Linked DNA regions of Homo sapiens. Changing the gene in region 7 together with the main gene of any one other region gives a genetic interaction. Each region holds a gene or a part of one and is shown on either strand. Other genes may lie near its edges.

Evidence for each region.
Region 1: changes in SREBF2 (region 7) and ATAD1 together harm fitness less than expected from each alone (positive genetic interaction), as found in Homo sapiens cells (one large-scale study listed by BioGRID).
Region 2: changes in SREBF2 (region 7) and CEP135 together harm fitness less than expected from each alone (positive genetic interaction), as found in Homo sapiens cells (one large-scale study listed by BioGRID).
Region 3: changes in SREBF2 (region 7) and PES1 together harm fitness less than expected from each alone (positive genetic interaction), as found in Homo sapiens cells (one large-scale study listed by BioGRID).
Region 4: changes in SREBF2 (region 7) and TBCB together harm fitness more than expected from each alone (negative genetic interaction), as found in Homo sapiens cells (one large-scale study listed by BioGRID).
Region 5: changes in SREBF2 (region 7) and MFN2 together harm fitness more than expected from each alone (negative genetic interaction), as found in Homo sapiens cells (one large-scale study listed by BioGRID).
Region 6: changes in SREBF2 (region 7) and FIS1 together harm fitness less than expected from each alone (positive genetic interaction), as found in Homo sapiens cells (one large-scale study listed by BioGRID).

What each region holds. Positions count from the first base shown.
Region 1 is NC_000010.11:87,786,695-87,791,173, forward strand, and holds part of ATAD1 (outer mitochondrial transmembrane helix translocase), read right to left. Parts: intron 3,737-4,479; coding exon 3,616-3,736; intron 2,436-3,615; exon of another isoform or gene 2,371-2,435; coding exon of another isoform or gene 2,346-2,370; intron 1-2,345. UniProt on the Homo sapiens protein: Outer mitochondrial translocase required to remove mislocalized tail-anchored transmembrane proteins on mitochondria.
Region 2 is NC_000004.12:56,010,801-56,015,279, reverse strand, and holds part of CEP135 (centrosomal protein of 135 kDa), read right to left. Parts: intron 3,869-4,479; coding exon 3,758-3,868; intron 3,481-3,757; coding exon 3,295-3,480; intron 1-3,294. UniProt on the Homo sapiens protein: Centrosomal microtubule-binding protein involved in centriole biogenesis. Acts as a scaffolding protein during early centriole biogenesis.
Region 3 is NC_000022.11:30,579,018-30,582,889, reverse strand, and holds part of PES1 (pescadillo homolog), read left to right. Parts: intron 1-1,245; coding exon 1,246-1,362; intron 1,363-1,481; coding exon 1,482-1,556; intron 1,557-1,788; coding exon 1,789-1,878; intron 1,879-2,188; coding exon 2,189-2,319; intron 2,320-2,711; coding exon 2,712-2,837; intron 2,838-2,954; coding exon 2,955-3,139; intron 3,140-3,586; coding exon 3,587-3,753; intron 3,754-3,872. UniProt on the Homo sapiens protein: Component of the PeBoW complex, which is required for maturation of 28S and 5.8S ribosomal RNAs and formation of the 60S ribosome.
Region 4 is NC_000019.10:36,117,782-36,122,260, reverse strand, and holds part of TBCB (tubulin-folding cofactor B), read right to left. Parts: intron 1,552-4,479; coding exon 1,455-1,551; intron 735-1,454; coding exon 543-734; exon of another isoform or gene 88-542; intron 1-87.
Region 5 is NC_000001.11:12,007,546-12,012,024, forward strand, and holds part of MFN2 (mitofusin-2), read left to right. Parts: intron 1-2,046; coding exon 2,047-2,181; intron 2,182-3,950; coding exon 3,951-4,020; 3' UTR 4,021-4,479. UniProt on the Homo sapiens protein: Mitochondrial outer membrane GTPase that mediates mitochondrial clustering and fusion. Mitochondria are highly dynamic organelles, and their morphology is determined by the equilibrium between mitochondrial fusion and fission events.
Region 6 is NC_000007.14:101,238,666-101,242,754, reverse strand, and holds the end of FIS1 (mitochondrial fission 1 protein), read left to right. Parts: intron 1-1,848; coding exon 1,849-1,925; intron 1,926-2,507; coding exon 2,508-2,613; intron 2,614-2,851; coding exon 2,852-2,949; 3' UTR 2,950-3,283; downstream 3,284-4,089. UniProt on the Homo sapiens protein: Involved in the fragmentation of the mitochondrial network and its perinuclear clustering. Plays a minor role in the recruitment and association of the fission mediator dynamin-related protein 1 (DNM1L) to the mitochondrial surface and mitochondrial fission.
Region 7 is NC_000022.11:41,863,863-41,868,341, forward strand, and holds part of SREBF2 (sterol regulatory element-binding protein 2), read left to right. Parts: intron 1-2,968; coding exon 2,969-3,418; intron 3,419-4,479.

The DNA.
Region 1 (4,479 bases), on a different chromosome or scaffold from region 7:
GCCTGTAATCCCAGCACTTTGGGAGGGCGAGGTGGGCAGATCACGAGGTGAGGAGATCGAGACCATCCTGGCTAATACGGTGAAACCCCGACTCTACCAAAATATAAAAAATTAGCCAGGCATGGTGGTGCACGCCTGTAATCCCAGCTACTGGGGAGGCTGAGTTAGAAGAATCTCTTAAACCCGGGAGGCAGAGGTTGCAGTGAGCCGAGATTGCGCCATTGCACTCCAGGGTGGGCAACAGGGCGAGACTCCGTCTCAAAAAAAAAAAAAAGTTACACTAAAATTCAGATTGGCTTGTCTGACAAATTATCAGTGAGTCTAGAGATAACGTTATTTAGAGTGGCACCTTTTCTATATACTTTCCTAAAATGGTCTCCACAGTGATAATAATTACGATGGGTGACAAATGAGTACTGCAATGAATGTGAGGCATTTAGCTTTTATTATTAGCTTTGCAACCTTTAAATTAGTTCTTTGAGCTTAATCTGATACTTTTATAACCAACTTCAACAAATAAAAACTGTGTTTATTATCTTAAGCTTTATAGAGGCTTAAAAATTTAAACTCCTTTTTAAGACGGATGTTTTTGGTAATGGCTTTACTTAGTAAGTGCTATATGCAAATAAAAGATTTAGGAAGAGGATGGGCACAGTGGTTCACACCTGTAATCTCAACACTTTGGGATGCTGAGGCAGGAGGATAACGAGCCCAGGAATTCAAGACCAACCTGGGCCACAAAGTGAGACCCTGTCTCTACAAAAAATTAAAACATTAGGCAGGCATGGTGGTACATGCCTTGCAGTTCCAGCTACTCAGGACCCAGAGGCAGGAGGATCATTTGAGCCCAGGAGGCTGCAGCAGTGGGCTATGGTTACACACTCCAGCCTGGTGACAGTAAGACTCTGTCTCCAAAAAAAAGGATAAGAACAAAAAAAGTATTGGGATACACAAATCTAAATTTGAGATAATCCTCATTTGTGACAAATATTCCACCTTATTAGTGACTATTTTTCTTTTTTGGACAACTGTTTATTGGCTTTAACATAAAATTTGTCCAAATGGTGCAAAAATACACATCTATATAAATTAAATCTACTTAAATATAAAGTACTTGAGAAGAATATGGGTCTTTATAACAGAAAATCTATTTTTAAAATTATTTTTTTCCTTAGGTTACTCACAATTTAAAGAATGCACCAAAACATGAAGTATAACATTCACAAATGTAATAAAATTTATATACCAAAATAACAATACAGAATTCAGAAAGTTTACAGAGGAAGCCATATGGTATTCAGATGGATTTTGTTGGAATTTTAACTGTTGTAAATTTTTAGACGTTTGAGGGAAAAAAATCACTTTTTAAATATAACCGTCAATATCTTATGTGTGCCCCCATTTCCCTGTCACCAATTAGCGGCATCATGGTGTGCATTAGCTTCAACTTTGTATCTATACACAATAGTTACATATGACCTCATGCACTGCATGGATACTGCAGTCACTCTCCAATTATCTTTTTGTAGTCTGTGTGAAGCAGTGATCACTTTCAGCTCAGATAGCAATAAACTGTCTAAGGATAACATAAAATTGTCAATAACTCTAACCTAGGTAACCTAGTTCCAGTCCCAAAATGGAACAAACAAGGATGCATCTGATTTTACACTCTGCTTCTATACACCAATATCCAATTTATATTGAGGGTCAAAAAGTAAATTAATGATCTTCAAAACTGTTATTCTTGATTAAAAATTGTCCAGACATAAAGGTGAAAAAGTTCAAATAGCAAAACTTTATATAATCAGAAAATATTCATGTAACTTTTAAATTGGACAATGCTTTCAAATAAGAAGCAAATTTACATATAACTTTTGAAGTATTCCCTGCATAATTTGGTATCCACTCTGCTAAATGGGTCTTTAAACCAAGTCCAACTGGAGAAATCACCCAATTACCTGGTCTAAGATAACACTGATAAAAAAAGAAGCTTTCTCCAACAGCATATAAAAGGTATTTTACTTTCCTAAATTCACTAGCATTGTCCAATTGAGAACTAAAAATGCAGAAAAGTCATTTTTTGTTCAGACTACAAATAACCTGGAAGAGGGTAGTAAAGACTTAACTAATCCAACTATAGCCATACATTTTTGATCTGGGCTCAAATAATCATTCAAAGTTTTTTTTGCGGCAGGGGGGAAATCACAATAAACTGAGTGTTTTGTTAGGAAAAACTATAAGCAGTGTTGTTATTTCAGAAAACAAAAAGAAATACCTAATAGCTTTGTTGTTTTAATAATAAAAGAACATGTCATTTTTGCTGTTAACTGTCATCCTCCACTTACCAGAAACAAAAATTATGTAGTTCATAAAAATGCACAGGTACAGGCTTCAGTTACCTTTGATATGTAAATTAATGCACTTTATTGATATAGCTGCAAATTTAGAAAGATTATAAGCATTATAATTTAAACATACATAATGCTATTTTGATATTTTTAAAGATCCACTTTTTTGAAAAATCAATGTGACTAATAATTTAAGTCTTGACTAACAACATATCAAACCCATATAGTTTTGGCAATGCATTAGATAAGAGTTTCTGCTAGATGAAAATAAGCTATCTCGTGAAATTTGGATCTGAACGCCATAGTAACACACACATATATCTCTCACTGTAAATTATTTACACTCCATCTGAATCACCTTTAACAAGCCTTAAGCATGACAGAAATATGTGCACTAGCTGGGCACAATGGCTCATGCCTGTAATCCCAGCACTCTAGGAGGCCAACGCAGGTGAAGAACTTGAACTCAGGAGTTCAAGACCAGCCTGAGCAACATGGTGAAACACCATCATTACCAAAAATATAAAAAAAGAGCCAGGCGTGGTGGCACATGCCTGTGGTCCCAGCTACTCAGGAGGCTCAGGTGGGAGGATCACTTGAGCCTGGGAGGCGGAAGTTGCAGTGAGCCAAGATCATGCCACTGCATTTCAACTTGGGTGACACAGTGAGACCCCATCTCAAAAAGAAAAGAAAAGAGAGAAAAGAAAAAAAAAGAAAGATTTGAATGAACAAGAATTACACTTAATGATGCAGTTATGAGCATATTCAATTCTTGAGTTCCAAGACTTTCAAAGTGATTTTGAATAAGCAAACATCTCCATCAAAGTTAAATATTTAATTTCTAGTTCATCTGCAGATAAATATTTCCTGAAAAAGAATCATTACATTCTAAAAATAAGATCGTTGGAGCTGTGAAACAAGAAAAAAATGTCTTGGCTTGAAAACAAAACAAAACAAAACAAAAAACTTGTATTATGACTTTGAATCTTTCTTTAATCTTGATTTTCCAAATTTTAATTTACTTGGAAGTAAGAGAAAAGAAATTGAAGGAGATTATTTTAACAAGTATTTTAACATGTAAATACAGGAAAAAGTTTATCTCAATTTCAGAAGCTGAAGAATGAGCAATTATTTTAAGAAACTGTTCACATAGATCTCAGCATCCTCTTGAGAATCTGATTTCACAAAAACTAGTTCTACAATGGCAGAAAGTTTCAATGTTTTCTAGGATTTTAATGCTTTAGGCGAATATATACCTTTACCATACCTTTTGGAGGCTGCAGAAGCCTGGAATTCTCAAACAAATGTTTCTTTTTGATAGGTAAGATGACTGTGTCTTTCAGATCCGTAATGACATCATCTAAACCTGCTATATCACTCCAAGTAACCTGGCAAAAGTTAAGGTCAACATGAATTTTACTACAAATGTACACTCACTAAAGTAAAAAGAACGCTCCCAAAATTACAAATGTTAATCTGATGATTATACATAAATAAGTTAAAATCATATATTAACATAAGTAAAGACTTTTCCAAGCAGTAATGAAATAAACTGCTATGAAACTGGAAAAAGGAATTTAATAGTCAACTATCTACTATTAAAAATCTGTAAGTCAGGTACTCAAAAATCTGCAAGGGTCTAATAAGCTAAATTCATTCCACTTGTAAGGAGAAAATACTCTGCTGCAAGAATACTGAGAACCAGCTGAGACATAATTTAGCACTGGCTGATGGGAAAGAGCTCATCAGGAATGTACCTATTTTATACAGGATGTTGTCAAGCATCACAGAAATTAATTTTAGAAATAAGGTCTTACAAAACATAGCTTCTGAATTTTATCCATCAAAAGTAAACCTATGGACCAGGCGTGGTCGCTCACGCCTGTAATCCAGCACTTTGGGAGGCCAAGGTGAGCGGATCACTTGAGGTCAGGAGTTCGGGACCAGCCTGGCCAACATGGTTGAAACCCCGTCTCTACTAAAATTACAAAAAAAAAAAAAAAAAAAAAAAAATTAACCAGGTGTAGTGGTGTGTGCCTGTAGTCCCAGCTACTTGGGAGGCTGAGGCAGGAGAATTGCCAGAACCTGGGAGGCGGAGGTTACAGTGAGCCAAGATCATGCCACTGCACTC
Region 2 (4,479 bases), on a different chromosome or scaffold from region 7:
TGTCTTCTGCTAGTAGGATCCCAGAAGTCCAACAACCTTCCTTCTTTTCATCCCATTTCTGTTCCTTTCAGTCAAAGCTGGAAGTGATTCTGCTGAGATGATTGATTGGATTCATGAGTCACATATCTAATCTCTTCACCAAGAGGTTTTCTAGCCATACTCTGGAGCACACTATCTGGATAGGCTAAGAATTTTCCAAAATCATCAAGTCCTGGTTTATTTTTTTTTCCTTTTTTTTGAGACAAGGTCTTACTTTGTCACCCAGGCTGGAGTGCAGTGGCATGATCTCGGCTCACTGCAGCCTTGACCTCCTGGGCTCAGCCCCCCAAGTAGCTGGGACTACAGCCACGTGCCACCATGTTTGGCTAATTATTTGTATTTTTTGTAGAGATGGGGTTTTGCCATGTTGTCCAGGCTGGTCTTGAACTCCTGAGCGTAGTTTTTTGGTGGACACAGGTGGATTGCTTGAGCGATCTGCCTGCCCTGACCTTCCAAAGTACTAGGATTACAGGTGTCAGCTACCACACCTGGCTTCATGTCTTGCTTTCTTTTTTGCTTTTCAGTTCCTTGCTCCATTTCTCTCTTTCCTCTCATATTTTACTGTAAGTAACAAGGAGAAACCAGGATGTCTCTTCCGCACTTTGCTTGGAAATCTCCTCAGCTAAATATCCGAGTTCATCCCTTACAAATTCTACTTTTCTCCCAACAGTAGACCGTAACTTAGCCAAGTTCTCTGTCACTTTATAACAAGTAACATCTTTTCTCAACTCTGTCTGAGACATCACCAGAGGAAACATTCATATTTCTGGCAAAATCCATCCATGACAACATATGTATTCTGTAAATAATAGAAGTTTTCTTTACAGCTCTCATCTCTTCTGAGTCTTCATCACAATTGCCTTTCATGTCCCTATTTCTACCAATGATCTCTTCAAGGCAATCTGGGCTTTTTCTGTCAAGCACTTCAAAACTCTTTCAGTCTCTACTCATTACCCAATTCCAAAGCCACTTTCATATTTTCAGGTGTTTGTTGTAGCAGCAACCCACTTTCTGGTGCTATAATCTGTATTAGTTTCCTAGGGCAGCTGTAACAAATTGCCACAAATTGTGTGGCCTAAAAAAATAGAAATTATTCTCTCACAATTCGGTAAGCTGGAAGTCCAAAATTCAGGTGTTGGCAGGTTTGGTTCCTTCTGGAGATTCTGAAGCAGAATCTGTTCTTTGCCTCTCTCCTAGTTTCTGATGGCTACTGGCAGTCCTTGACACTCCTTGACTTCTACACATATCACTCTAATCTTTGCCTCCATCTTTACGTGGTGTTCTCTCCTGTGTTTTCTGTGTCCAAATATCCATTGTCCTATAAAGACATCAGTCCATTGGTCTTAGGGTCTAACCCTAATCCGCTATGACCTCATTTTAACTTGATTCCATCTGCAAAGACACTTTTTCCAAATAAGAGACTGGGGCTCAATATATCTTTCTGGAGGCTATAATTCTATCTGCTACAGATAGTCAATACTTTCTCCTGAAAGATAAAAATTATAAAACTATACAAACAAAACAAAACAAAAATGACAATAATGGCCAACTATTGTATATCAATCTAACCCAGGGTCCCTATATTTTAACTGAACTCAAATTTTTTATTATGAGATTTTTATCAGACTGTCTTTATGACAAAATCTTATTTAAATCCACATGCAAAAAAATGATGCTGGGCTCTTATATCATTTGTAAAAATTAACTCAAAATGAAACAAAGACCTGAATATATGAGCTAAAACTATAAAACTCTTATTAGAAAACATAGGGGAAAAGCTTTATGACATTGCAGTTAACAATAATTTCTTGGATATGACACCACAAGTATAGGCATCAAAGGAAAAAAAAAATTGGACTTCATTTAAATTGAAAACTTCTGTACATCAAAAACTGTTGAAAAGGCAACCCACACAATGGGAGAAAATATTTGCAAATCACGTATACACTAAGGTATTAATCTCCAGAATATGTAAAGAACTTCTACAACAACAATTTAAAACAATCTGATTAAAAAATGAACAAAGGATTTGAATAAGCATGTCTCCAAAGAAGATACACAAATCGTCAATAAACAAATGAAAAGATGCTCAACATCACTAACCATTAAGGAAATGCAAATCAGAACCACGAGATACCGCTCTATTCCCATTATGACGGCTCTTATAAAAAATAAAAAAATTACAAGTGTTGGCAAGGATATGGAGCAACTGGAACCCTCGTGCATTGCTGGTAGAAATGTAAAATGGTGTAGCACCTACGGAAAAACCACATGGCTATTCCTCAAAAAATTAAACACAGAATTATCATATGATCCAGTAATTCCACTTCTGGGTATATACCCAAAAGAACTGAAAGCAAGCACCCGAACAGATATATTTGTATACTCATGTTCATAGCAGCATTATTCACAACAGCCAAAAGGTAGAAACAAATCAAATGTCCATTGACAGAGGAATGGCTAAACAAAAATGTGGTACATACATACAATGAAATGTTATTCAGCCTTAAAAAAGGATGAAATTCTGACACATGCTACACAATATGGATGAACCTTGAGGTAAAGTAAACCTTAAGGCTAAGTGAAATCAGTCACAAAAGGACAAACATTGTGTGATTCCACTATATGAGGTATCTAGAGTAATCGAATTCATAGTGACAGAAAGCAGAATGACAAATAATGGTGATAGTTACACAACATTGTGAATGTACTAATGCCACAGAACTGTCTACTTAAAAATAGTTAAAATGGGAAATTTGATGTATGTATCTTTTACTACAAAAAAAAGTAATGGGCTTCTATGCAAATTATGAGAATGACAGAAATTTACCACTGAACTTGATTTTATCAATGTTTACGACCTCAGGTCAATAAAGTATCTTTGAGGCCGGGTGCGGTGGCTCATGCCTGTAATCCCAGCACTTTGGGAGGCTGAGGCAGGTGGATCACTCAAGGTCAGGAGTTCGAGAGCAGCCTGGCCAACACGGTGAAACCCCATCTCTACTAAAACTACAAAAAATTGGCCAGGTGTGGTGGCACACTCCTATAATCCCAGCTACTCAGGAGGCTGAGACAGAAGAATCGCTTGAACCCAGGAGGTGGGTGCAGTAAGCAAAGATCGTGCCATTGCACTCCAGCCTGGGCAACAGAGTCAGACTTCATCTCAAAAAAAATAAATAAATAAATAAATAAAGTATCTTTGAATGTTTTCTGTTTCACTAAATAACATCTTTACAAAACAAATAAATATATTACCTCTTGAATTTCTTTTTCTAATAGCTCCACTCTTTCTCGAAGATGTCTCCTCTCAGTGTCAATAGAAAGAAGTTCCAGTCGAACTGAGCTGCTTTCTCCCTCAGCTTGATGGGCTTTGACCTCCCAGTCTTCAGCACGGTTATGAAGCATCTGAAATCTATCTAACAAATCTTGATTTTCTTTTTCCTGGTTTAATCACAATAAAATTGTTTCTAAATTAGTAATTGTCACTTCCTGGAACACCTATGTCATAAACACATACACATACACAGCATTCTGTTCTAATTTAGGAAGCATTAGATATCTGTGCAGGTACCACACTAAAATCTATGGGAAAAATAGAAAAAGGCAGTAGACAAGATCTCTACTTTAAAATGTTTAATATCTAATTGTAGAGGCACATGAAAAAGTTAAAAAAAAAAAAAACCTCAGTCTTAAATCCAACCTAAATAATATTTTTCACCTTGGCAGCCATTAAGCTCTCCCATCGTGACACCTCTGTTATGTATTTATGAACTCTGCTCTTCATTTCTTCTTTTTCTTGCACTGCTGCTTCCAATTCCAATGAGATTTCCTACAAATCAGAAAATTAAAGACAATCTAAAATGAACACAACACCAAATAAATTTTATTTATATTCAAATAATTCCTTTGGAATTGGAGAATAAGATAGAGTAGGGCAAAAGGAAAACTGTTCCTAAGTGTTATTTTCACATATTTTTCCTGGCTGATCTTGCCTTTTAAAATATTTCAGACAGAGTCTCATTCTGTCGCCCAGACTGAAGTGCAATGGCGTGATCACAGCTCACTGCAGCCTCGACCTTCTGGGCTCAAGCAATCCTTCCACTTCAGCCCTCCGAGTAGCTGAGACCACAGGCACATGTCACCATACCAGCTAATTTTTTTTTTTAATTTTCTGAGATGAGGTCTCACTATGATGTCCAGCCTGGTCTCAAACTCCTGGGCTCAAGCAATCCTCCCACTTTGGTCTCCGAAAGTGCTGGGATTATAGGCGTGAGCTACCACGCCTGGTCTGATACTGACTTTTTAACCAAACTTTATCACACATTTCCCATAATAGTCCTGATCATGTATCTGGCATTTACACTAAAGGCTAGCTATGGTCAGGGGTTGACATTAAAAAACATTCATATTTCATCAATATGCTTTATGCTGAATAATACG
Region 3 (3,872 bases), about 11 Mb from region 7:
CATAGCTGTGGAACTCAGGCTGGTTGTAGGGGCGGGGTCTCCCTGCTCAGTGCTGGGCTGTGGGAAATGGGGTTGGTCCCCAGATGTGCCTGTCAGGGGCCCTCACAGATTCTCATGGAAGGATGGCGGTGTGAGTGAGGGAACAGGCAGGGCTTCTCTTGGCCCTATGTGCTCTCACAGCACAGGTCACTGTCTGGCAGCAGAATAGCGGAACAGCTAAGAGTCATGGGCACACCCGGCACCCATGGTGATCACTACTGATTTTCACGTTGCTCGGAACATCCTGCCGCGTCCTGGGGGCCAAATGGGCTGGCTCGGCCTCCATGGTTTTAGGGGGCAGAACTGCTCAAGAGTTGTGATTCTGTCTGGGCCTCAGTTCTTTGCCCTGTTTTGCCCTATTAACTGCTCCAGGGCAAAGATGAGCCTTCTGTGTCCCCTGCTGCTGGGATGACAGCTCTGTGCCTTTTCCCTGAGCAAAAAGTAGTTTTGTCTGCTGGCCATTTCCCAAGAGCTCCCTGGGGGCTGAGCCAGGCCAGCTGCCAGCCTACCCTGGCCCCTCGGGTCATGCCTCTGGACCTGGCTTGGGCCCAAGGAGGGAGTCACTCAATTCTGAGTGTCCATCCCAAGGTTCAGAGGTGGGACTCAGTGGGCGGCCTGAGCCCCATGCTTCCCCCGCCCCCGCTGGGCCTGGCCTTCCCAAGGCACCTTAGTCAGCCAAGGTTTTGCCAGCCCCTCTGGGCTAGAGACAGCGCTGGGAGCACCACCCTCTGGTGCTCACACGCTAGCCCAGCAGCAGACATGCAGCAAAGATTGTAGACTAGGTGATGTAGAAGGCAGGAGCTCTGGCCAGGTCGGAAAGTGGTCTGTCCGAGTCTGAGCTAGACCTGAAGGAAGTGGGAGAGCCGGAGCAGGGAGGGGAGGGCCAGCCAGTCTTCGGAGCAGCAGGGACCAGGGTCCCTTTTCTCACTCTTTTATGGGGGTCTGGCACTGACTTCCAGGATGCGTCTAACCCTTGGGACCCCTATCCAGAGCCTCACTTGTGGCTGGGAACACTTGTGGCCGGAACGCCCCTGGTGGGAAGATCCATGCCACCCCTTCCCTAGGGCAGCGCCTTAAGGGCAGAGCCTTCTTGAGGAGCTTGGGGTCTTTGGGTAGGTCAGACACCCTCCACTCTGTGGGTTGTCTGTCCCTCCTTTGCCCCCATCCCTGCACCCACACTGCTCATGCATCTCTTGTGTTCCCCAGCACCCGACAGACGTGGACTACAGGGTCATGGCCACCTTCACCGAGTTCTACACCACGCTGCTGGGCTTTGTCAACTTCCGCCTTTACCAGTTGCTCAACCTCCACTATCCCCCGAAGGTAGGACCCCAGCCCAGTGCCTTCTGCTCGCCGTGCAGGGGCCACAGCCCTTCTCTGTCCACACAGAGGCGAGGGGCTGTGGCTGTCCTCTGCCTCCTGACCTTCCCTTTGCCTACTAGCTCGAGGGTCAGGCCCAAGCAGAGGCAAAGGCCGGTGAGGGCACCTACGCGTTGGACTCCGAGAGTTGTATGGAGGTGAGAGGCTCCAGGAGCATCATCCGGCATCTCCCAAGGGAGTGGTCTCTGTCCCCAACACCTCTGGGGGTCTGGTTCAGAGTGGGGGTGGTTATGGCTAGGTGGGTGGTCTCAGCCTGCCCTTGGAACCCACACCTGCTGATGCCCAGGACTGTCACTGCTGCCCCTCCCCACCCTGGCCACATGCCCGCATGAGGTCCCCCACTGCAAGCAGCCCCCTTCTCTCCTGTAGAAACTGGCAGCCCTCAGTGCCAGCCTGGCCCGCGTGGTGGTGCCTGCCACAGAGGAGGAGGCCGAGGTGGATGAGTTTCCCACCGATGGGGTGAGCACTGCACTGCCTTCTGGCAGGAGGGCTGGGAGGGGTCGTGTGGGGGGTTTCCCAGCTTAGGGACATTTGCATCCTATAATTAGGTGTTATTTGATGGTCAAAGCAACTGAGCAGAAGAATGGGCTGAATTGTCATCAGAGTTTACATAGGAGGCAACAGAGCTCAGGAGTGGGGCCTTGGAGTTTCCTTTGAAGGCAGGATCCAGGATCTAGAAGGAAGCTGGAGTGGACGTTATCTCCAGCCCTGGCCCTCCAGTGGGGGTGGGCAGCCCTGGTGGTGCGAGGCCTGGCCCCTTTCTCAACAGGAGATGTCAGCGCAGGAGGAAGACCGCAGGAAGGAGCTGGAGGCGCAGGAGAAGCACAAGAAGCTTTTTGAGGGCCTGAAGTTCTTCCTGAACCGAGAGGTGCCCCGTGAGGCCCTGGCCTTCATCATCAGGTAGGGAGGCTCAAGGGCCCGCTGACAGCATTGGTTCGGCCATGCTCTGGTCTGGGTCCTGCCCTGGTGCCCATCGGTAACATTGGGATGGTGTCAGTTTCCACTTCTTATGAAACAGTGTGTGGAAAGTGCTCGGCACCGCACTGAGCACATAGGAAGTGCTCAGCAGAGGGCGGAACTGCCGTCATTTTATTACTAGCTTAGCACAGAAGGATGGGCAGTGGGCAGATCTCTGCTGAGCCAGGATTGAAGGATCCTGGGGTGAGGAGGGGGTAATTGTGTCCTAAGAGGGTGAGTTTATGGGCTGGGTGGCCAGCAGGTCCCAGGGAGCTGAGTCTCAGGACAGGCAGCTCATGTCTGTGTACCCGTGTGGGCTCTCCCTGTCCCTGTAGGAGTTTTGGTGGGGAAGTGTCCTGGGACAAATCTTTGTGCATTGGGGCCACCTATGACGTCACAGACTCCCGCATCACCCATCAGATTGTCGACCGGCCTGGGCAGCAGACCTCAGTCATTGGCAGGTAGGCCCTCAAGGGTCCTCGTCCGGATTTCTGGGTATCCTGTCTCAAAGGCCCTGCGATGCAGCAGGACCCTGAGTTGCCCTCTGTGACTCGTTTTTGCCTGCCACTCTGCGCCAGGTGCTACGTGCAGCCCCAGTGGGTGTTTGACTCAGTGAACGCCAGGCTCCTTCTCCCCGTGGCAGAGTACTTCTCTGGGGTGCAGCTGCCCCCACACCTTTCACCCTTTGTGACCGAGAAGGAAGGAGATTACGTTCCACCTGAGAAGCTGAAGCTGCTGGCTCTGCAGCGGGGAGAGGACCCAGGTGAGCGGGATGGGACTGGGCTGGCCTTGACCCCTGGGCCCACGCTGGCTGTTTCCCTTAGCTGCCAAGGTGGAAAGCTCCAGGGAACAGGCAGTAGGAGCAGAAAGCCCTTTGAAGTCACCTGTAGAATAAGGCTTAGGAGAAGGGACATCTACCTCCTGGGGTCAGGTGTTATTTGACGTTCAGGATGACTGAGCAGAAGAACATGCTGCATTGTCATCAGAGTTTACATTGGAGGCGACAGAGCTCAGGACTGGGGGTCTTGGAATTTCCTCTGATGGCAGCTGGGCTGTGGGGAGGTGCAAGAGAGGGCCACAATTGGGACATCCCTGAACTGCCCATGGCTAAAGACGGCAGGGTCAGAGAGGATGGGGCCTGGGCCTGTTGTCACCCTGCCAGAGAGACAGTAGATTCCCAGGGCATTCAGAGGACATTGGCTTTCTCTAGGAAACCTGAATGAGTCAGAAGAGGAGGAGGAAGAGGACGACAACAACGAAGGTGATGGTGATGAAGAGGGAGAAAATGAGGAGGAGGAGGAAGATGCAGAGGCTGGTTCAGAAAAGGAGGAAGAGGCCCGGCTGGCAGCCCTGGAAGAGCAGAGGATGGAGGGGAAGGTAGGGGGAGCTGCAATGCGGGGCTTGGCCTGGGAAGCAGCCCTGCTTGGTGCCTGCTCTGGCCTAGAAGGTCAGGAGCCAGAGGACTGTGGAGGTCGGGAGAACCTGCCCCCATAAGC
Region 4 (4,479 bases), on a different chromosome or scaffold from region 7:
GACGCCGCCCTGCCCATGCCCCTGACTACACTTCTCCCCTCTCCTCCCGCTCCCCTTCCCCAGGTGGACCTCCTGCGCTCTGCTCACCTGCACCCGCTACTCCTTCTGGCGGGAACTCTTCCTCCCTTTTCACCTGGCTGCTGCCTCCTTTCCTTCAGATGCTCCCAGCCTCCAGGTGCTTCCTCTGGGCTCACACAGCCCCCTGTGTTCCCTCACTCCTGCCTTGGTCACGCCGCCCGTTTCCCCACCGCGACTGACACTGCCCCACGCTTCGAAGCGCACAGGCCGCGTGCCTCTGGCTTCTGCTTCCTCCCTCGCTGGACAGATCACTCCGCCTGCGCCTCCCACTTCCCTCCACAAACACTCTGGGCCGTCAGTGTCGGCAGATGGTTCCGTCACCTCCAGGGACTGAGATCGTTTCGAGTCCCCCCCAACCCCGCGCCCCTAGGCAGAGCGTGGTCTCCGAGGCTCCACTGTGCCCCCAACATTTCCTCCCGGCCTTGGAGCCCTGGAGCCCGGGACCGGGCCCGCGAGCCACGCACCTACATACATGACGGTGCCCCGGCGAGGGGATTGTCCCGCCGCCCGCACCTCACAGCGGCTGCCCACGGGGATGGAGCTGGCCTGGGCCTTCTCCTCGGCCAGGCGCTGGGCGGCCTCGGCCTCCTGCTGAGCCCGCTCCTCCTCGTTGTACCGGCCGAGCTTGCTGCGCTTCAGGAAAGAGCGGACCGTGTCTGTGGGCAGAGGGGGCTGGGGTCAGTTGGGGTGTCGGCCGGGCCTAACAGGATGACGCTCCACCCACGAGGGGCCCACGTTCACGGAGGAACTCTCTCTTCCAGGTGACAAAGGGCTGTCACCCAAGCCCCAGGTCTCCCACCACAGCCTTAGCCTCTCCCAGGACTCCTAGGCCCCCCAACTCCACAATCGTAAATGGAAGGGGTGCCGCCTGCACCCCTCACTACAGGACCCATGGTCTCTCACCCCTTCAGCGCACATCTGCCTTCATCATCCGCCTTCCTCCTCCGCCCTCCTCCGGCCCTGAGGCCCCCGGTCTCCCCCAACACTCGATCCGTCCCAGGCGCCCTCACTGACCGCCACCCTGTCCACTCGCATTCCACCTGTCCTGCCCTCCACACCCCGTCCGACCGCCCCATGCCCCCATCTGACCCTGACAACACCCAGCCCCCACACCTACCCCTCAACTCCCTCCACTTTCCCAGCCCTCCCCCGACCACGTCTGACTGCCCATACCCCTGACACCTCCCGGCCCTCATTCCCACCCCAGGCCTCCGTCTGTCCCCACTCCCAGCCTCACCCCTATATCCTCCCAAGCTCTCGGCCCCCCGTCTACACCACTGGCCTCCCTGCAGGGGCCCTGTCTAACCTGCCCGCCCTCATACCTGCACATACTCCCTCTGGCCCCCACGCACCCCTCGACGCCCACCTGCCCGTACCTTGCCTCTGGTCGTAGGCTTCTTGTGAGATCGTGTACTTCTCCACCCGGGACACGTCCTCATACTCACCAAGGCGGGCGCCACTGTGGTCAATGACCTGTGTGAGGGGAGGGGCTCCGTGGGGATCAGGGTCTGGCCAGGGAGGCCTGGGTGCTGGGTGCAGGGACTTCAGTGTCTCCATCTGGGAAAAACGCATCTCCCTCCCTCGCCTGTACTGCAGCCTTCTCTTCTCTCCTGAGCCCAGCGGAAGGGAGAAGTAGCTACGTACACTGGCCACCTCCCCTTCCTCACCCCCATCCAAGCTCCCAGAGGCTGCCTCTGTCCCCAGAAGTTCCCCGCTTGCTGGCATCAACATCGCCAAGGGCCCCAAAGTCACAGAGTCCAACCGGCAGAGCTCAGGCCTTGCCCACAGCCCTGTGCACAGCGCATCTCCTCGATGGGCCTCTGGGACTCTCCTAAGCTGGCCCCAACCTCAGGCCCCAGAGCATCTCTTCCTGTTCTGCCCCCACTATTCATTCATTCATTGGTTTCCGAGCTCCCAGGGGCCCAGCTGGGCCTCATGCTGGGGACTCAGTGTAAACACAGACGCACTCTGCCCTCAGGCTGTGCTCATTGTGCAGGGAGAAGGCCAACCACAAACAAAGGAACAGGTACCTATGAAACACTGGAGGATGGCTATGGAGAAAAATATGACAGGGAAGAGGCTTAAGGAGCATGGGAGGGTAGGCTTCCCAAAAGAGGGGATGTTTCAGCCAAGGCTGGAAAGATGAGCAAGAACGGCAGGTGCAGACGGCCAGAGGTAGAAATGTCCTTCACGCTCTAGAGTGGGTGGTGCGGGTGGGGTGGAGCGAGCCAGAGGGAGAGTGGAAGACACAAGGGACTGCTGGAGACTTTGGGTTTTTTTTTTTTTTTTGACGGAGTCTCGCTCTGTCACCCAGGCTGGAGTGTGGTGGTGTGATCTCAGCTCACGGAAACCTCTGCCTCACTGCAAATTCAAGTGATTCTCCTGCCTCAGCCTCCCGGGCAGCTGAAACTATAGGCACACACCACCACACCCGGCTAATTTTTGTATTTTTAAGTAGAGACGACATTTTGCCATGCTGGTCAGGCTGGTCTAGAACTCCTGACCTCAAGTGATCTTCCCACCTCAGCCTCCCAATGTACTGGGTGGGATTACAGGCACGATCCACCGCACCTGGCCTAGACTTTGGTTTTTATCTGGAGCGAAGTGCCACCAGGGCAGGGCTCTGAGCTAGGAGGGCCCTGGCCTGACTCAGGTGGTCCCAGGCTCCCTCTGGCTGAGATGGGGAGCGGGGAGGCCAGGGAGGAAGCTGCCGGGATGGCGAGGTTGGGGGAAGGATGGAGGCTGGACCAGGGTCAGGGAAGTTTTTGTAGGTGGAGCCGAGAGGATTTGATGAGAGTGGATGTGGGGGTGAGGGAGAGAGCGGGCCCAAGGAACACCCTGAGGTGTCTGGCCTAAGCCACTGGGCTAACATGGCAAAATAGGAATGGCCTTTACCTCCGGATGAAGCGTCACTGAGAATTTCTGTTGAGAATTTTCACAAATTTGAAGTTCTGTTATTTTAAACAATGAATATGGGTGATATTTATAAAGAGAAAAAGAATTTTAGAAAATGTAAAAATTCCCCAGTGGCTCCACTCTGGAACACCTTCCTTGAGTGGCCTGGGAGGTCTGTGTGTACCTGAACCGCCTGTTATGAAACCTGCTCAAAGATGCCACTGCCTATGAGGTGCCTATGAACACCCGCACCCCTTAGCTTCAGCTGCCCAGGGTGGCCCAAAGGCTCAGTCCTGTGCACCCAGCAGAGGCCTGACCCACAGCTCCAGACCTCGTCCCCTCATCAGGACTCTCACAGCAGCCCCTTCCTGGTCTCCCTACTCTTCCTGTCCTCCACCACCTGTTCCCCACACACAGCCAGAGGGGGCCTGTGAACACCTGAGCCAGGTCAGGGTCCTCCCCAGCTTCCACAGTGTTTGGCCACAGAAGTGGCCTGTCTTAATCCCCACCGCGCTCCCTCCCACCTTGGAGTGTTTGCTGGGTTGTGCCCCACTCCTAGGGCACCCCTTCCCCATCTTCAGTTAACCTTTTTTTTTTTTTTTTTTTTAAAGATAGGATCTCACTCTATCATCCAAACTGGAGTGCAGTGGTGTGATCTCAGCTCACTGCAACTTCCAGCTCCTGGGTTCAAGTGATCCTCCTGCCTCAGCCTCCTGAGTAGCTAGGATTACAGGCATCTGCCACCACGCCCAGCTAATTTCTGTATTTTTAGGAGAGACGGGGTTTCACCGTCTCGAACTCCTGACCTTAAGTGATCTGTCCACCTCAGCCTCCCAAGGCACTGGGATTACAGGCGTGAACCACCATGCCCGACCAATTCTTTTTATTCTTCTCGTCTCTGCTCCAGCAGCACCACCTCCAGGATGTCCTCCCAGACGTCACTGATGCATCAGGTACCCCAGGATAGGGTCTCCCAGCTTCATGATCTCCTACACAACCCTTGTCTCCCCTGACCCTTCACATTCAGTCCTCTGGCCATTTAGCCAACATCTGCCTCATACACTAGAACTTCTCAGATGCAGTCATAATGAAACCCCTGGCACAACACAGATGGGGAATGAACAGTTAATCAACGAGAGAAAAAAGAAGCAGTTCTCTCTAGAGTCATGTAGACTGGGGCCAAAATGCTACTGACAGTTCATCCTTAAGAAAGTAGATTCTGGGCCGGGTGCGGTGGCTCATGCCTGTAATCCCAGCACTTTGGGAGGCCGAGGTGGGCGGATTACCTGAGGTCAGGAGTTCGAGACCAGTCTGACTAACATGGTGAAACCCCGTCTCTACTAAAAATACAAAAATTACCCTGGTGTAGTGGCGGGCATCTGTAATCCCACCTACTCGGGAGGCTGAGGCAGGAGAATCGCTTGAACCGGGGAGGCGGAGGTTGCAGTGAGCCGAGATCATGCCACTGCACGCCAGCCTGGGAGACAGAGCAAGACTCTGTCTCAA
Region 5 (4,479 bases), on a different chromosome or scaffold from region 7:
TGGGCTGTGGATGTAGTTTTGAAGTTTTTGAACCCAGCCTGATCTTCGTGCACATCTTAGGTCAGGTGGGAATCTATTGCCTAATCTGGGGTGGTGGGGATGAATATCCTCGCTTCCTTTTTTTTATTGTGTGTGGCAGACCCTTTGCTCTAGACATTTTGCACCTAATTATTTCTCTGACTCTTGGAGGTAGATGTTGTCTTATAGCCATCTCCTTTTTCTTTCTTTCTTTTTTTTTTAATTGATCATTCTTGGGTGTTTTGGCAGGGTCATAGGACAATAGTGGAGGGAAGGTCAGCAGATAAACAAGTGAACAAAGGTCTCTGGTTTTCCTAGGCAGAGGACCCTGGGGCCTTCCGCAGTGTTTGTGTCCCTGGGTACTTGAGATTAGGGAGTGGTGATGACTCTTGACAAGCATGCTGCCTTCAAGCATCTGTTTAACAAAGCACACCTTGCACCGCCCTTAATCCATTTAACCCTGAGTGGACACAGCACATGTTTCAGAGAGCACCAGGTTGGGGGTAAGGTCATAGATCAACAGCATCCCAAGGCAGAAGAATTTTTCTTAGTACAGAACAAAATGGAGTCTCCTATGTCTACTTCTTTCTACACAGACACAGCAACAATCTGATTTCTCTATCTTTTCCCCACATTTCCCCCTTTTCTATTCGACAAAACCGCCATCGTCACCATGGCCCGTTCTCAATGAGCTGTTGGGTACACCTCCCAGACGGGGTGGTGGCCGGGCAGAGGGGCTCCTCACTTCCCAGAAGGGGTGGTTGGGCAGAGGCGCCCCCCACCTCCCGGATGGGGCGGCGGCCGGGCGGAGGCGCCCCCACCTCCCTCCCGGACGGGGTGGCTGGCCGGGCGGGGGCTGACCCCCCCCACCTCCCTCCCGGACGGGGCGGCTGGCCGGGCGGGGACTGACCCCCCACCTCCCGGACGGGGCGGCTGCTAGGCGGAGACGCTTACTTCCCAGACGGGGGCGGCTGCCTGGCGGAGGGGCTCCTCACTTCTCAGACGGGGCGGCTGCCGGGCAGAGACGCTCCTCACCTCCTAGACGGGGTTGTGGCTGGGCAGAGGCGCTCCTCACATCCCAGACGGGGTGGTGGGGCAGAGGCGCTCCCCACTTCCTAGATGGGATGGCGGCCGGGAAGAGGTGCTCCTCACTTCCCAGAGTGGGCAGCCGGGCAGAGGGGCTCCTCACATCCCAGACGATGGGCGGCCAGGCAGAGACGCTCCTCACTTCTCAGACGGGGTGGCGGCCGGGCAGAGGCTGCAATCTCGGCACTTTGGGAGGCCAAGGCAGGCGGCTGGGAGGTGGAGGTTGTAGCGAGCTGAGATCATGCCACTGCCTGGGCAACATTGAGCACTGAGTGAACGAGACTCCATCTGCAATCCCGGCACCTCGGGAGGCCGAGGCTGGCAGATCACTGCCGGTTAGGAGCTGGAGACCAGCGCGGCCAACACAGCGAAACCCCATCTCCACCAAAAAAATACGAAAACCAGTCAGGCGTGGCGGCGCGCGCCTGCAGTCGCAGGCACTGGGCAGGTTGAGGCAGGAGAATCAGGCAGGGAGGTTGCAGTGAGCAGAGATGGCGGCAGTACAGTCCAGCTTCGGCTCGGCATCAGAGGGAGACCGTGGAAAGAGAGGGAGAGGGAGACCGTGGGGAGAGGGAGAGGGAGCGGGAGAGGGAGAGGGCCATCTCCTTTTTCAAAATCAAGAAACTGAGATTTGAAAAATAGTGACGTGTCCTCTGCTACTCGGCTGATGAGCAGCAGAGTCAGGATCTCTTGTGCCCAAACCAGGGTGCACAGCTCTGTGCTGTTGCTTCTCAGGCCGTGGTGATGCTGAGTGTGTTTGGTTGTTATGATTATTCAGTCTCAGCAGGGTGTAGGAGATTCTGCCAAACCAGGCCTGGCTCAGGGCAGAGCTGCTGGCAGGGATATAGACAGGCCCAGCTGCTCCCTACTGTGGGTGGGCTAAGCCACCAGTGGCATCTTGCTCCACACACCCCAACTGGGTCCCTTCTCTCTCCTCCCCAGGGAACTGTCTGGGACCTTTGCTCATCTGTGTCAGCAAGTTGACGTCACCCGGGAGAACCTGGAGCAGGAAATTGCCGCCATGAACAAGAAAATTGAGGTTCTTGACTCACTTCAGAGCAAAGCAAAGCTGCTCAGGTGAGGCTGGCCCGTGTGGCCAAAGGTTAGGGCTCCAGGGTGCAGCCCAGGCACACTGGGGCTCAGCTGCTGGGCTTGCGTCTTGGGTGTGGACACAAATTTTTCTGGTGGGGATTTAGCTCATTCGTGTTAGATGTGTACCATGGGCTGGGCACGGTGGCTGACGCCTATAATCCCAGCACTTTGGGAGGCTGAGGCAGGTAGATCACCTGAGGTCAGGAGTTTGAGACTAGCCTGACCAACATGGTGAAACCCCGTCTCTACTAAAAATACAAAGATTAGCTGGTCGTGGTGGTGTGTGCTTGTAATCCCAGCCACTCGACAGGCTGAGGCAGGAGAATGGCTTGAACCCAGAAGGCGGAGGTTGCAGTGAGCCGAGATTATGCCATTGCACTCCAGCCTGGGCGACAAGAGCAAAACTCTGTCTCAAAAAGAAAAAAAAAATGGATGTGTACCACGTACCTCATGGATGCCAGATGGTGCTGGAGGCTCAACAAGACACAGCGTCGCTGCCTTCAAGGCACTTGCAGTTGAAGGCATGATGGCATCACAGTACTGCGAGACTGCAGTTCACAGCGCCCTGTGCTGAACCGCAGGGCCTACAGCGCTTAACATGTGCTATTTCACTCAGTCTTCCCTATTTCTCCATTTTCTACATAGAAATGTTGGGGAACTTGTCTGGCATCTCAAAAAATGGCCAGGCTAGGAGGGGAGCCCAGGTGTACTTGGCTCCAGCAGCCCCCGCACTCTGATTCTCCTTACCTGCCACTCTTTGGACCCATGAAGAGGGCATAGCCCCCCATTTACCCACAGAGAAGCTGGTTACTTGGCTGGGGACTGGCAGAGCTGGGATTGGAACTCAGATCTCCATGGGGTCTCTGTGGAGCTTTCATTAATAATTTGCTGGAAAGAACATCAGTCTGAGGAGTCTGGAGTCCTGGGTTCTCTCCAGCCACTCATGTTTGGCCCAAGCTCTTAACTCTCCTGTGTCTCATTATTTTCATCTGTAAAATGGGAGTAAGATTTCATGACACAGCTGCATGACTGAATGTAAAAGTGCCCTGCAAAAGTCCTCGGCCTGCCCAGCTCATGATAACATCAGCACACGGGGACCCTGCAGAAGTCCTCGGCCTGCCTAGCCCATGATAGCATCAGCACACGGGGACCCTGCACTTCCTGCCCTCGCCCCTGACGTCAGAGTCTGCAGGGTGGCAGAGCCAGAGGGGAGATGGATCAGAGGGTGTCAGCTCCAACCCTCACCGGATCACTGGGCTTTCCCTGCCCTCGACTGCGGATGTGCCCCCCCCGCACCCCCACCTGGGGACAGCTGCTTCCTAGGGACACACTGCTTGCCCTCTGGGGACTCTCAGAAAGGGGGAATGGGGGGAACTGCTGCTTGTCAGCCACAGTGACACAGCTGAACCTGGAAAGGGTCTCCTGTCAGCACCTCAACCCCTTGCTTGGCAAGCAGGGAAACTGAGTTCCCGACAGCTCAGGGACTTGCACATGGTCCTGGGTGAAGGAAACACAGGGCTTGAGAATCAGAAAAGCCTAACTTGTAGCTCCCTGGCTTATTAGCCGTGTGGCCTTGGGAAGTTATTTAACCCCTCTGGGCCTCCTTTTCCCCATCTGTGAGACAGGGATAAACACGATTGTTGGAGGATGATGTAAGGGTGTGTGTCAAGCGTCCTTAGGATGGTGCCTGGCGGGTAGTCCTAATACTGCCTATCATCAGCTATCATGGTTACAAAAGAACCATTTCTTTGCAGGAATAAAGCCGGTTGGTTGGACAGTGAGCTCAACATGTTCACACACCAGTACCTGCAGCCCAGCAGATAGTGGGCACCTGAGGCGGAGTCTGCGTGGAGAGGGGCGGTGCTGCCAGCCCTAAGTGCCATGTGGGCTCCCCCAGGGGCACGTGTGGCTCCTGCCCCCTGGCCACTGCCAAGAGAATGAAGCACCCAGTCTCGTACCATTTTGAGCCCTCCAGCACTACTTATTTTCCCCCACCTTTGCCTGCTGTTGCTGGAAGAGCTGGCTCATACCCCCAAAGGACACTTTCAGCGACAGCTATGGACAGCATGGTACCAAGGAGTTAAGTTGAGGCTTTTTCCAGCTTTCTCTGGTTCATTTGATTGCTTGATAAGGCCTCAGGATCTCAGCATTGCACAATGCCTCATGGAAGCCTTTGAGGGTATCACACAGACACCCCCACCTTCCTCCAGCCTGTGCGCACCTGCCCTCCTTGCAGCCCAGCACACCTGCAGGTGTAAGGGACGATTGGAGTTTCTTCCCAGA
Region 6 (4,089 bases), on a different chromosome or scaffold from region 7:
AGCACCTTGGGAGGCCAGGGCAGGCGGATCACGAGGTCAGGGGTTCGAGACCAGCCTAATCAACATGGTGAAACCCTGTCTCTACTAAAAATACAAAAATTAGCTGGGCCTGGTGGCGCACACCTTTAATCCCAGCTACGCAGTAGGCTGAGGCAGGAGAATCACTTGAACTCGGGAGACAGAGGTTGCAGTGAGCCAAGATCACGCCATTGCACTCCAGCCTGGGCAACACAGTGAGACTCCGTCTCAAAAAAAAAAAAAAAAAAACTATAAAAATAAGACTCTTTCTTAAAAGATACAAATAATTTTACCCTATGTTTGTCTACTTCGGCAATTCAGATTTTCAGGTTTATTCTACAGCAGGGTGTAGGTGTAGAAGAAACAGCCTCTCTAAGTGTTGCCAGTCTAGTTGAGAAAACAGTACAGACAGGAAGATTTATAAACACCTGCAGAATTATTTAGCAACAAATTCTAGTGCATACAGTACAGTTATCCTCTGGGAAGTCTCTGAATTAAGAAAGTCAGGTGGGGCCAGGCACTGTGGCTCATGCCTGTAATCTCAGCACTTTGGGAGGCCAAGGCCAGAGGATGGCTTGAAGTCAGGAATTTGAGACCACCTGGCCTGTCTGTGTAACAAAGATGTTTAAATTAGCCAGGCATGGTGGTGTGTGCTTATAGTCCCAGCTACTTGGGAGGCTGAGGCAGGAGGATCACTGACCCCAGGAGTTTGAGGCTGCAGTGAGCCATGGACATGCTACTGTGCTCCAGACTGGAGTGACAGAGCGAGACCCTGTCTCCGTTTTTTGTTTTTTTTTTCCCGAGACTGAGTGTGCAATGGTGCAATCTTGGCTCACCGCAACCTCTGCCTACCGCATTCAAGCAATTCTGCTGCCCCAGCCTCCCGAACAGCTGGGATTACAGGCATGTGCCAACACGCCCGGCTAATTTTGTATTTTTAGTAGAGACGGGGTTTCTCCATGTTGGTCAGGCTGGTCTCAAACTCCCGACCTCAGGTGATCCGCCCGGCTCAGCTTCCCAAAGTGCTGGGATTATAGTCATGAGCTACGGCTCACGGCCCACCCTGTCTCTTTAAAAAAAAAAAAAAAAAAAAAAAAAAGGAAGGAAGACAAAGTCAGGTGGGGTCTTCGGGGAAGGCTGATTGAAGGTGAGTTTTGAGCTGATTTTTTTAAAGGGGGAGGGAGTCCTAACTTTTTTTTTTTTAAACAATAATTGTACAGCAGGCAGTTTAGTTAAAACCACAACGGCAGCACTTTGGGAGGCCAGGGCAGGCAGATCACTTGAGGTCAGGAGTTTGAGACCAGCCTGGCCAACATGGTGAAACTCCATCTCTACTGAAAATACAAAAATTAGCCAGGCGTGGTGGCGGGCACCTGTAATTCCAGCTGCTCGGGAAACCGAGGCAGGAGAATCGCTTGAACCCAGGAGGCGAAGGTTGCAGTGAGCCGAGATCACGCCATTGCACCGCAGCCTGGGCGACGAGTGAAACTCCGTCTGAAAAAAAATACCACAGCAGATGCCAAAACTGAGTCACGCTGCCTTTGGCTTCTCCAGGGCCCCGATTTCCTCATTTCAGTTGGATGGACCAGTTGACTGTAATACTGATAAAAGGCATGTTCTGTCACTGGGGTGTTGGCACAGCTGGGGTTCACCCTGTCCCAGAGCTCTGGCTAGGGTGCTGGGAGTGACTGGAGCTGAAAGGGAGGCTTAGGACTGTGACCCTCCCAGGATCACAGAGGCATTCAGAGAGTGGAAGGGGCCTCTGGGACACAGTATTAGGAAAGTATTAGGAAAGAAGCATTTCTCACCCTCTTCTCTGCCCCTCCCCAGAGCTGCTGCCCAAAGGGAGCAAGGAGGAACAGCGGGATTACGTCTTCTACCTGGCCGTGGGGAACTACCGGCTCAAGGTGAGGTGGGGACCCCGTTCCCTTCACCCTCCTCTGGGGCTGCAGGACCTTCTTACTGTGTCCTCCAGGGTGGAGCCCTGGACAGCGGGAAGGCTGAAGGGGTGCAGAGGTGCAGAGCGGTGTCAGATGAGGACTCCGAGGGAAGATCAGAGTGGCGAGGGGGTGGGGAGGAAGGTGACGTCAAGAGACTGGGTGCAGGCCCAAGCCTTGCGCTGTTATCTCCCGCAGAGTTGGGGTTGTTTGTGGACTCTACTCCGTGGGGTGGGGCTGGAGGGAGGGAGTGGGTGGAGGTCGAGGGAGGAGCCCCCAGGGCTGAAGAAGGGAAGGCCCTTCACGTGGGCAGGGGGAGTGGTGGATACTGAGGTGTAGCCGGCCCAGTGGCTCACGCCTGTAATCCCGGCTACTCAGGAGGCTGAGGCGGGAGGACTGCTTGAGCCTGGGAGTTTGAGGTTGCAGTGGGCTGTGATTGCGACGCTGCCGTCCAGCGTGGGCAACAGAGCAAGACCCCGTCTCTTATTAAAAAACAAACAAACAAAAAAACACTGCGGTGTGTATGACGCGTGCGCGTTTCCCCGAGCGCAGGAATACGAGAAGGCCTTAAAGTACGTCCGCGGGTTGCTGCAGACAGAGCCCCAGAACAACCAGGCCAAGGAACTGGAGCGGCTCATTGACAAGGCCATGAAGAAAGGTGACAGCCTCGGCCCCTTTGTTCAGCCCCGCTCTTCCCCACGCCTGGGCACTTTGGTCTCTCTGTAAATGAACCCCTCCAGGCAGCCCCTCAGCCCCACCCCTTCCAGTTCTTAGAGCCCCTTGCCCTGCGACTCCAGGTAGGGGTGTGCCTCTGTTGAGGGGCAGGGCTGGCGGAAGGGGACGGTCAGGGTTTCCGCAGGGGCCGGGCTCCTGACACTGTCCCTTTCCTTCCCCAGATGGACTCGTGGGCATGGCCATCGTGGGAGGCATGGCCCTGGGTGTGGCGGGACTGGCCGGACTCATCGGACTTGCTGTGTCCAAGTCCAAATCCTGAAGGAGACGCGGGAGCCCACGGAGAACGCTCCAGGAGGGCCTGTCCATCCTCGCTGTCCTTTCCCTGTTCTCCCCCTGCCCCCCGTCTCTATCCTCTGTGGCCTTCAGCTAATTTCTGCTCCCCTGAGATTCGTCCTTCAGCCCCATCATGTGCTTTGGGATGAGTGTAAATAAAACGGGGCTGTGGCTTGGGAACCCCCGTGTCTGCGTTGAGGGGAGGGGTGGGTTCTGAACGCTGGGCACAGGGGGCGGAGACGTCACTCCTGGTCCTCTCCTGCCCCTGCCCTCCAGGTTGGCACGGGGTTCTTTGTCCACCCCGCAGCCCAGAGCCCACACCCTTCCTTCCTCCCTTTCCTGAAGCCATGTCCTTGAGAGTGCCGGGCAGCTCGGAGACATGGGGCTTTTCCATGGTCCCAGAGTCCTGGGAGAAGGCAGTGACCTGAGCATGGGCGGGCAGAACTTCGGGGCCAGGCCGGGCTTCAGGCCTGCATTCTCCTCTGACCCACTCAGCTACTTCTGTGGAGTTTTCCACAGCAGGCCCCCTTGGCTTCCTCCTCCCCACCCTCCCCTCCCTTTGTCTTCCTGTGGCCTCCCCTTCCTCCTACCTCCTCCTCTGGGGGAGGGGGAGCCCAGTAGGGGAAGGAATCCTGCATCTGGCATGGAGTAGGCGGGGGTCCCGGGAGAGGTCAGAGCCCAGGGAGCCCCAGCTCTCGCCTGTGGGCTGGAAGGTCAGGACTCAGCCCCACCTAGCCAGCTTCGCCCCCTCGTGCCAGGCTCGGCATGGGCCTGTTTTGCTTCACCGCATACCTCTCGTTCCACAGCCCAGGCCAGCACAGGAGTAGGGAGGAGACACCTGAGGGGAGGCCGGAGAAGCCCAGCAGGGCCGTGGGGCCAGGGAGGTGCGCAGCCAGCGCTGATGGCCCCCAGGGACAGAGCCCTAGGGAACCGGAGCAGGAGATGAGAGTGTCTGCTCTGGGACAGGTGCTCTGCACTGGCTCGGGATGGGGACCAGAGGCTGCTAATCCATCATCATTAACGAATAGAGTGGGTGACAGTCCCTGATAACTGGGAACAGGTTGCAGAGCTTAGCCACAGGATCACGCTCCAGGCTGTTGGCCAGCAGGACCAGGCTCGATGCTGA
Region 7 (4,479 bases):
TTATTTATTTATCTATCTATTTATTTATTTATTTTTTGGGACGGAGTCTTGCTCTGTTCCCTAGGCTGGAGTACAGTGACGCAGTCATCTCGGCTTACTGCAACCTCTGCCTCCTGGGTTCAAGCGATTCTCCTGCCTCAGCCTCCCGAGTAGCTGGGATTACAGGCACCCACCACCATGCCTGGCTAATTTTTGTAGTAGACAGGGGTTTTCACCATGTTTGTCAGGCTGGTCTCGAACTCCTGACTTCAGGTGATCCACCTGCCTTGGCCTCCCAAAGTGCTGGGATTACAAGCATAAGCCACCACCCCTGGCCTATTTACATTTAATTATGATTTATTTTTCCTATCCTTCTGCAAGCATATATATATATATATATATATATATATATATATATATACACACACACACACACACACACAAAATATCAAAATATATATATATATGTATATATATATATATTTTTTTTTTTTTTTGAGACTGAGTCTCGCTCTGTTGCCCAGGCTGGAGTGCAGTGGCACGATCTCTGCTCACTGCAAGCTCTGCCTCCCGGGTTCACTCCATTCTCCTGACTCAGCCTCCCGAGTAGCTTGGACTACAGGCGCCCACCACCACGCCCAGCTAATTTTTTGTATTTTTAGTAGAGACGGGGTTTCACCGTGTTAGCCAGGATGGTCTCGATCTCCTGACCTTGTGATCCGCACGCCTTGGCCTCCCAAAGTGCTGGGATTATAGGCGTGAGTCACCGCGCCCGGCCCAAAAAATCTTTGTGTTTTTTTGTTTGTTTGTTTTGTGTTCAGAGAAGGGATCTGGCTAGGTGCCCTGGCTCATGCCTGTAGTCCCAGCACTTTGGGAGGCCAAACCGAGAGGTTGCTTTTCAGGAGTTTGAGACCAGCCTGGGCAACATGGTGAAATCTCGTCTCTACAGAAAATACAAAAATTAGCCGGGCATGGTTGGCGCACACCTGTGGTCCCAGCTACTCAGGAGGCTGATGTGGAAGGATCGCTTGAGCCTGGGAGGTGGAGGCTGCAGTGAGCTGAAATTGCAACACTGCACTCCAACCTGGGTGACAGAGCAATACCCTATCTCAAAAAAAAGAGAGACAGAGTCTCGCTGTGTTGCCCAGGCTGTTCTCAAACTCCTGACCTCAAGTGACCCTCCCACCTTGGCCTCACAATGCACTGGGATTACAGGCATGAGCCACCACAACCGGTCTCAGCAGCTTTCTGTTTGTCAGATATACAAATATACCCCAGGCTCCAGGCCCCCACATCCCCCAAAAAACACACACACACACACACACACAGCATCAGAGACCTGAGAAGGACATCTTGGTGGAGGTTTGGGGGAATGGAGATGGTTCCTTTTATTTTTTTATAGTGGTGGTGTGGTGGTTTTTGTTGTTTTGGTGTCTAAATCAGAGCATCACATGGCCTTGAAGGTTTGGAAAGGAGGGGCCATAGTTCAAGAACAAGCAGTAGCTTCTTGGGAACGTATTGGAGAGAGAAAAGAGAAAAGAATATGGACAATGTAGAGAATTGTAGGTCTGAAACTATCTGGGACAAAGCTGAGGCTCCTGACTTCTATAGGGACCAGTCATATGAAAAAGAAGGGAGTCGTGAGAGATGATGGGGTAGTTGTGGGTTAAGTTGGGTTTTGGAAAGCCTTTGGGAAGATTGACCAGGGAAGAGGCCCTGGAAGTAGGCTTGAGACCCTTTGGGCTGGGAATTTAAGGGTCCCAGCTACTTGGAACATGATCTAGAAAGGGAAGCGAGGTCTCCAGGTGGACAAATCCCTTTGGACCCAAGACTCCTTGCCCAGAGAAAAGGGGCACAACCAGACAAGGGCTAGCATGGGCCCTGGGAAGCACGGAGTTCAGGGTGGGGCAGGCTTGCTGTGTCCTGGCCTGGCAACATACCTGCACTGTGTTGTGGTAGAAGAACACAAAGCTGGGAGGCAGAGAACTGGTTCTAATCCTAGCTGTACCCTGACAAGCTGTGTGACCTTGGCCAAGTTACTTTCCTCTCCTGGACTTCATATATGGTTTTTCCATTCTTTGCATCCCTGAAGCTCCATGACTTAGGGGCCATCAACTTGGTTGTCCCTGAGTGTTTCCAAGAATACCAACAGTGCCCAGGGTTTTACTCAGCTTGGAGAGGAGGCCTAGAGCCTCCCTGTGGTGAGGAGGAAAGAGGTTAGAGCAAGTTTGGGTCTGCAGTGCTAGGATTAGAGGTGGCCTCACAAGCCAAAACCGCTATACTCACAGCCTTAGGACAGTGACTCCCTACTCGCTGCCTCAGTGTTTCCAGCTGTAAAAAAGGACCCTTGGTACCTTCGACAGAACAGCACCCATCTAGTACAAAGGTAGTTCCTTTTATGATCAAAACAATCAGGAAAAAGAGAGAGGCTGGGTGCGGTGGCTCACACCTGTAATCCCAGCACTTTGGGAGGCTGAGGTGGGTGGATCACCTAAGGTCAGGAGTTCGAGACCCACCTATCAATATGGTGAAACCCTGTCTCTACTAAAATTACAAAAATTAGCCGGGCATGGTGCCGTGCACCTATAGTCCCAGCTACTCAGGAGGCTGAGGCGGGAGAATCGCTTGAACCCAGGAGGCAGAGGTTGAAGTAAGACAAGTTCGCGCCACTGCACTCCATCCAGCGTGGGCGATAGAGGAAGACTCCGTCTCAAAAAGAAAAAAGAAAGAAAATGAGAGAAAGGGCCTGGAGGTGAGTGTGAGGAGGGAAAAGAACATCAAACAGATAAAGTCCTGTCCTGTTGTCCTGGGACCTTGGGCAGCCATCTTGGCCCAGATGATCCCCACAAGAAAGAGGTAAGGGTTTCCTGACCCATTTCTGCCATGGTCTTAGGAAAGTCATTGAGTTTTCATGCCTTAGTTTCTTAAGCAAGTTTGAAAGTTCACTTTTTGGATAGCAATAAAATTACTCCTTTTCTTTTGTTCACAGAGATGCTGCAATTTGTCAGTAATCAAGTGGGAGAGTTCCCTGACTTGTTTTCAGAACAGCTGTGTAGCTCCTTTCCTGGCAGTGGTGGTAGTGGTAGCAGCAGCGGCAGCAGTGGCAGCAGCAGCAGCAGCAGCAATGGCAGGGGCAGCAGCAGCGGAGCTGTGGACCCTTCAGTGCAACGGTCATTCACCCAGGTCACATTACCTTCCTTCTCTCCCTCGGCGGCCTCCCCACAGGCTCCAACTCTGCAAGTCAAGGTTTCTCCCACCTCAGTTCCCACCACACCCAGGGCAACTCCTATTCTTCAGCCCCGCCCCCAGCCCCAGCCTCAACCTCAAACTCAGCTGCAACAACAGACGGTAATGATCACGCCAACATTCAGCACCACTCCGCAGACGAGGATCATCCAGCAGCCTTTGATATACCAGAATGCAGCTACTAGCTTTCAAGGTGATTCAGAAGTTAGAATGGTAGTGGTTGGTTGGTTCCAATGTTTATGTGCCAGTTTGCAGACACTGTAAATATTTCTGTCGTCTTCAGGAATGGCAGGTATATCAATATGGTCCTGTCTGAATGAGGTTCTGGTAACTGGCAATAAGAACTGGTACAGGAGCATGTCACATTCTGCAGCTTCAAATACCTTAATATCTATTGCGCCTAATTCAAAAATACTTGGTTAAAAAATCCAGCAAGCGGCCGGGCGCGGTGGCTCACGCCTGTAATCCCAGCACTTTGGGAGGCCAAGGCGGGCGGATCACGAGGTCAGGAGATTGAGACCATCCTGGCTAACTCAGTGAAACCCCATCTCTACTAAAAAATAGAAAAAATTAGCCGGGCATGGTGGCGGGCGCCTGTAGTCCCAGCTACTCGGGAGGCTGAGGCAGGAGAATGGCGTGAACCCGGGAGGCAGAGCTTGCAGTGAGCAGAGATCGTGCCACTGCACTCCAGCCTAGGCAACAGAGCGAGACTCCCATCTTAAAAAGAAAAAAAAAAATCCAGCAAGCATAGTAGACACAGGGCCATTCTGATAACTAGTGGTGGAGACTTGAATAAGGCTTGAAATTGGCTAGGCGGCAGCCAGATCTCAGCTGCCACAGTTGAGAACTATTCATTCAGCAAACATCTGAGCATCCACTATGGTGATGAATATGACTTTTAATATAGGTGCAGCAGCTTCAAGTAGCAAGCCTCATGCTGGGCCCTTAGTATGTGTTGAGGGAATGGATGACTGAAAGGGGCCTGTTCTTTCTGTGATGTGCTGCATCCCAGTGCCTTTTCATCATATTTCCCTCTGACTCTGTGGGGAGCCCAGGGTAAGATTAGTATTGCTTTGAATTTCAAAGAATCTTATAGTTCTTCAATGGAGTTCAAGAATTGGGACAGGTGGGGGAATGTAAAGGCAAAAAGCTGAGACAGTCCTCCCAAAGTGCACTTGCCGTCCAGAAAGGATGGAAGAAAATGAAGCCCCAGGGAGTTGTTGATTCTCAACATCTGTTAACTCCCTTGCTGGG